Linked DNA regions of Homo sapiens: region 2 is linked to region 1. A link means that fine-mapping ties the variant in region 1 to the expression of a gene that starts in the linked region. Tissue or cell type: whole blood. Region 1 holds a variant in brackets; the other region holds the start of a gene. All regions are shown on one strand. Distances are from middle to middle. Region 1 overlaps RHOA (ras homolog family member A). Region 2 holds the start of AMT (aminomethyltransferase).

Evidence for each region. PIP is the estimated chance that this variant, and not a neighbour inherited with it, causes the effect. A credible set is the group of variants that fine-mapping cannot tell apart.
Region 2: AMT starts here. The variant in region 1 is the best candidate, but not a certain one, in a credible set for the expression of AMT in whole blood (TOPMed, PIP 0.86).

Annotation. Positions count from the first base shown.
Region 1 is chr3:49,394,562-49,397,464 of GRCh38, forward strand. The region is part of intron 1 of RHOA (ras homolog family member A); the gene reads right to left. Among named protein-coding and RNA genes, the nearest start is that of RHOA, 16 kb to the right of the region's middle. The variant G/A (reference allele first, on the strand shown) is at 1,386.
Region 2 is chr3:49,421,320-49,424,185 of GRCh38, forward strand. It overlaps AMT (aminomethyltransferase), which reads right to left and starts at 1,154. Exons shown (of 9, transcript NM_000481.4): 1 at 1,042-1,154; 2 at 785-952; 3 at 173-253. The coding sequence starts at 1,131. It overlaps NICN1 (nicolin 1, tubulin polyglutamylase complex subunit), which reads right to left. Exons shown (of 6, transcript NM_032316.3): 6 at 1,014-2,866. RefSeq lists enhancers at 29-781, 782-1,535.

The DNA.
Region 1 (2,903 bases):
ACTGGTCTCAAACTCTTCACCTCAAGTGATCTACCTGCCTCGGCCTCCCAAAATGCTGGGATTTCAGGCGTGAGCCACTGCATCCGGCCACAAACCACTGTCTTCTATGGGCCATTCCTTGTTCTAGCTACTAGAGATACAGCTTTATCTGGAAAACACTCAGGGAAAACAGCACAATGTAATTAAGTGCTGTAACAAAAGCTTATCTTCTCTGGTATGAACTCAGAGAAAAGGCAAGTGATTCTGCCAGAGAGCTTCAGATAAGATGATATCTGACCTGGATGGACCTTGAAGAAGGAGGACAAGTCCCCTGGAAAGAGCGGTAACGATGGTTCAGGAATACTTTCTAAGGTGAGGAAACAGCTTGAGCAAATAACCTCAATGACCAGTAACACAAGAATTTGGCGGTCGGGCGCGGTGGCTCACGCTTGTAATCCCAGCACTTTGGGAGGCCGAGGCGGGCAGATCACGAGGTCAGGAGATCGAGACCATCTTGGCTAACACGGTGAAATCATGTCTCTACTAAAAATACAAAAAAAAACAGCCGGGTGTGGTGGCAGGCACCTGTAGTCCCAGCTACTCGGGAGGCTGAGGCAGGAGAATGACGTGAACCCGGGAGGCGGAGCTTGCAGTGAGCCGAGATCGCACCACGGCACTCCAGCCTGGACGACAGTGCAAGACTCCGTCTCAAAAAAAAAAAAAGAATTCAGAAAGGAGATTTTTGAAAATAAGGGTGGAAAGATGGGGCGATGGTTAGACCAGAGGATATGGTATGTCATGCAGAGCAATCTGCATTCTATTCTGTAAGGAAGGGAAAGCCACTGGACCAGCACAATCAGGTCTGTAATTAATAGAGAAACAAAGCCTGGCCGGGCACGGCTGTTCACACCTGTAATCCCGGCACTTTGGGAGACTGAGAGGGGTGCAGATCACCTGAGGTCAGGAGTTCAAGACCAGCCTAGCCAACATGGTGAAACCCCATCTCTACTAAAAATACAAAAATTAGCCAGGCGTGGTGGTGGGCGCCTATAATTTCAGCTACTCGGGAGGCTGAGGTAGGAGAATCGCTTGAACCCAGGAGGCGGAGGTTGCAGTGAGCCAAGATCACACCACTGCACTCTAGCCTGGGCAACAGAGCGAGACTCTGTCTCCAAAAAAAAAGAAGAGGAAGAAACAGAGCCTTGGCAGGGCACGAAAAGTGATTGAGTGGTTAACTGGATAGGGATGAGAAAACTATGGCAAGGGTATGAGGGTGCCCAAAAGAAAGAACCCTAATGGAAGGGGAGGTGGAATGGGCACAATCTAAGGAGGCGTTTTCCAAACCTCACAAACATTTCCCCACAGTCAGCTGAAAAATATCAGTGCCCAGGTAAGCTGTTATTACA[G/A]GTAAAAACAGCATAGTCTTCCAGTGTATGGAATGGAGAGGGGCAGTGATCTAGCCAAAGAGTGCCACCAACACAAAGGAAGTGGTGGTCATGAAGAAGCCAGAAATAACTGAAATGCTCAAAAAGGTATGATGATAATGAACACCAAGAAAAAAGGAAGAACACATTACAAGAAAAGAGTCCAAACTACATGCTTGCAAAAAGAACACAGGTCTATGAGGAGGTGTCCAGCAACAGGAGAAAACCTTTTCATATAGCCACAGGCAAGAGTAGATGGCAGTGAATTGAGAAAACGTGGGCACTGAGATATGTGGTGGAAAATGTTCTTTCAAGAAGTCAGCCCGGGGCCAGGCCTGGTGGCTCACGCCTGTAATCCCAGCACTTTGGGAGGCTGAGGAGGATGGATCATTTGAGATCAGGAGTTAGAGACCAGCCTGGCCAACATGGTGAGACCCTGACTCTACTAAAAATACAAAAAATTAGTTGGGCGCGGTGGCTCGCACCTGTAATCCCAGTACTTTGGAAGCCAAGGTGGGCGGATCACGAGGTCAGCAGTTCGAGACCAGCCTGGCCAACATAGTGAAACCTTACCTCTACTAAAAATACAAAAATTAGCCGGACATGATGGCACACGTCTGTAATCCCAGCTACTCGGGAGGCTGAGGCAGGAGAATCGCTTGAACCTGGGAGGTGGAGGTGTCAGTGAGCCAAAATCGTACCACTGCTCTCCAGACTGGGCAACAAGAGCAAAACATCACACACAAAAAAAGTCAGGCCGGGTGCAGTTATCAGCACTCTGGGAGGCTGAGGTGGGAGAACTGCTTAAGCACGAGTTCAACACCAGCCCGGGCAACATAGTGAGACCACATCTTTACTAAAAAAAATTTTTTTAAAGTAGTCAGCCTGGGCTTGGTGGCTCATGCCTATAATCCCAGCACTTTGGGAGGCTGAGGTGGGAGGATCACTTGAGCCCAGGAGTTCAAGACTGGCCTGGTCAACATGGTGAGAGCTTGTCTCTACAAAAAATAAAAATATTACCCAGGCGTGGTAGCATATACCTGTGGTCCCACCTACTCTGCAGGCTGAGGTGGCAGGATCGCTTGGGCCCAGGAGGGCAAAGTGGCAGTGAGTAGTGATCGAGACACTGCACTCCAGCCTGGGTGACAGAGCAAAATCCTGTCTCAAAAAAAAAAAAAAAAAAAGTCAGAAAATAAATGTTACAACATGGATGAACCTTTAAAACATTGCATAAATGAAAGAAGCCAGTCACAAAAGACAATATATGATTCCATTACACGAAATATCCAGAATAGGCAAATCTATAGAGACACAAAGTAGATTAGTGGTTACCTAAGGCTGGGCGTGGTGATAGGGAGATTGAAGATGACAGTTGAAGAACATAGGGTTTCTTTTTGAGGTGATAATAATGTTCTAAAATTGACTGTAGTGATACACGTAAAACTCTGTGAATATACTAAAACCCACCAAACTGTTCATTTCAAATGAATGGTGTGATAT
Region 2 (2,866 bases), 27 kb after region 1:
TCCCTACAAATGTCTGTGTCTCTGGAAATGACTCAGGGATTCTGTCCAAGACTGCAAGCCCTGAGAAGCTGTGTTTGACTCATCTCTGTGCCCCTAAGCCTGAGGTAGGGACTCAGCCCATTTGCTGGCTCATGACTAAGAAAACTCATAGAGCAGAAATAAAAGGGCCCACCTGGTTTGGTCTTAGCTCTGCAATGTCTCCAACCACTAGACTCTCCATCAGCTTCACCCGGTCACTACCAAGTATCTTGGTCTGGGGAAGAGATTGAAAGCCTCAGGCCATTGCAACAGCTACAATCCAAAAGGCTACTAAGCAAGGATGCATCCTCCCTGCCATCCACAGTGCAGTCCAGCCCACCCAAAGTGACTAACCAGTCTTTTGGTTCTACACGTGGCAAAGGACCACCTTCTGATTTCCTGACCTCCCCCAGTCACTCTGTGTGGGGGGACTGCCAGGGAACTGGACAGGACCTAGCACCTTCCTGAAATAACCCCTTTTCAAACCAACATCCAGCCCAATACATGAGAGTGGGTGTCAGCCCTGGAAAACCCGGGACATTAAGGCACACCATTTAATGGGGGCAAGCTAGAAGGATGAGATGATGAGACCCTCTGAGCTCATTTCCTTGGGGCCATTGACCTATCCATGACACCCCCATGACCTCTAGCTCTTCTGAGAAGGCTGTCCTTGGAATCCAGTTCACAGCAAACAAAGCCAAGGAGTGGACCACTGTAAACAGGGAGGAAGGCCTGATCAGATGGCCAGTGTGCTCCCCTGGCTCACCTGCAGCATATGAGACACGTCAAAGAGCGAGCAGTGCTGGCGTGTGTGCAGGTGCGAGTCAGTGTGACTGTCCCGGTACTGCACTGGCAGACTCCAACCCGCAAACGCCACCATTTTCCCGCCGTGGGCCAGGTGGAAGTCATAGAGCGGTGTCCTGCGGAGCACCTCCTGTGGGCGGCTGGGCTTAGTGCCACCAGGGCCCTAGCCCCCAGCCGCTTCCCTCCCCCACCCTCCAAGATCAGCACCCTCTATCCCACCTGTGCGCAACTAAGTGGACGACACAAGGCCGGGGGGAATGCCTGCAGGCGAAAGCCCAGACGGGCCACCACACTTACAGCCCTCTGCATCGTCGCCTGCAACGAGTGCAGACGGCGCACAGAGGCCACCACACTGCCAGGCACGCCGGGAGATGTAGTCCAGGCCTCTGCTCGGACAGGTCTCTCTCCGGAGCAAAGGATCTGAAGGGGGCGTGGGCAGCCCCAAGGGCAGGCTGGGATTTAGAGCAGAGAATGCAGGAACCCGCAACCACAGGGAAGAAGCCTCCAGCTCTTTCGGCTGACTCTTCAGGGCAGCTCGGGCAATCCAGAGCTGATTGGGCTGCCCAGAACAAAGCTAGGGGCTAGACCGCCCCCTGCAGAACCGCCCTGTCTCCAGAGGGTCAAAGTTCTGGAAAGGGCTGAAAGGTCTGAATCATACCTTTAGGACCTCAAGAGAGTAAGGTCAAGTGGGGGTGGGGAAGGTGGGCCAGCCTGGCAGGTAGGCAGCACCACAGTAGTCTGTCCTCATGTGGACCCCTAGTTCCACAGCTCTCCCACCAGGCAGACACAGGCAGCCAGCAGTCATGCATTCCACAAGTATTTATTGATCTTACTGCATACCAGGCCCTCAGATGGGGACACAGCCACGAATGAAGCATGGTCCCTGCTACCACAAGGTCCTCTTCACTTACACACACACTGAGGACTACTGCTTCGTCACGCTTTCCGAAGCAGCTGAGTGGGGCTATGTAAGTGACCTTGCAGATGAAGTCGCCACCTGCAAGAACTCACAGGTGAGAACAGAGGGTGGCCACCAAAAGGTCACTGAACTCCCCCGAGAAAACTGTTGAGCCACACACATGTCCAACTTTCCAGGTCCAAGACATACTGCAGTACTGCTTTGTAATAGCCACCAGGTGCAAAGCCAGGAAGAACCAGAGGGAAACAGGTTTTTCTCACATGAGGGAAGAGCAGCCTGCATCACTTAATGGTTGGACTGAGTTAATGCAGGACTTAGGCCTCTTAAAAGGCAACAATGAGAACCCTTACTTGGACCCACTCCCCACCACGGTTGATCTCTCATTATGCTGAGCATATCTCTTGGAAAGGGGCAGGGCGGGCGCGGTGGCTCATGCCTGTAATCCCAGCACTTTGGAAGGCCAAGGCAGGCAGATCACCTGAGGTCAGGTGTTTGAGACCAGCCTGACCAACATGGAGAAACCCCATCTCTACTACAAATACAAAATTAGCCAGGCATGGTGATGCATGACTGTAATCCCAGCTACTCGGGAGACTGAGGCAGGAGAATTGCTTGAACCTGGGAGGCGGAGGTTGCAGTTAGCCAAGATTGCACTATTGCACTCCAGCCTGGGCAACAAGAGCAAAACTCAACCTCAAAAAAAACAACAAAAAAGGAGAGGGGCAACTGGGAGAAAGGATAGAGATGTGCTTTGGGCTATGTCAGATGGCAGAAGGGTCCCAGTTCTTTTTTTTTTGTTTGTTTGTTTAAGATGGAGTTTCGCTCTTCTTGCCCAGGCTGGAGTGCAATGGCATGATCTCAGGTCCGCAACCTCCACTTCCCGGGTTCAAGAGATTCTCCTGCCTCAGCCTCCCAAGTAGCTGGGATTACAGGTGCCTACCACCACGCCCAGCTAATTTTTTGTATTTTTAGTAGAGACGGGGTTTCTCCAGGTTGGTCAGGCTGGTCTTGAACTCCTGACCTCAGGTGATCCGCCTGCCTGGGCCTCCCAAAGTGCTGGGATTACAGGCGTGAGCCACTGCACCCTGCCTAGAAGGGTCCCAGTTCTTATGCTCAGGCCCTGGT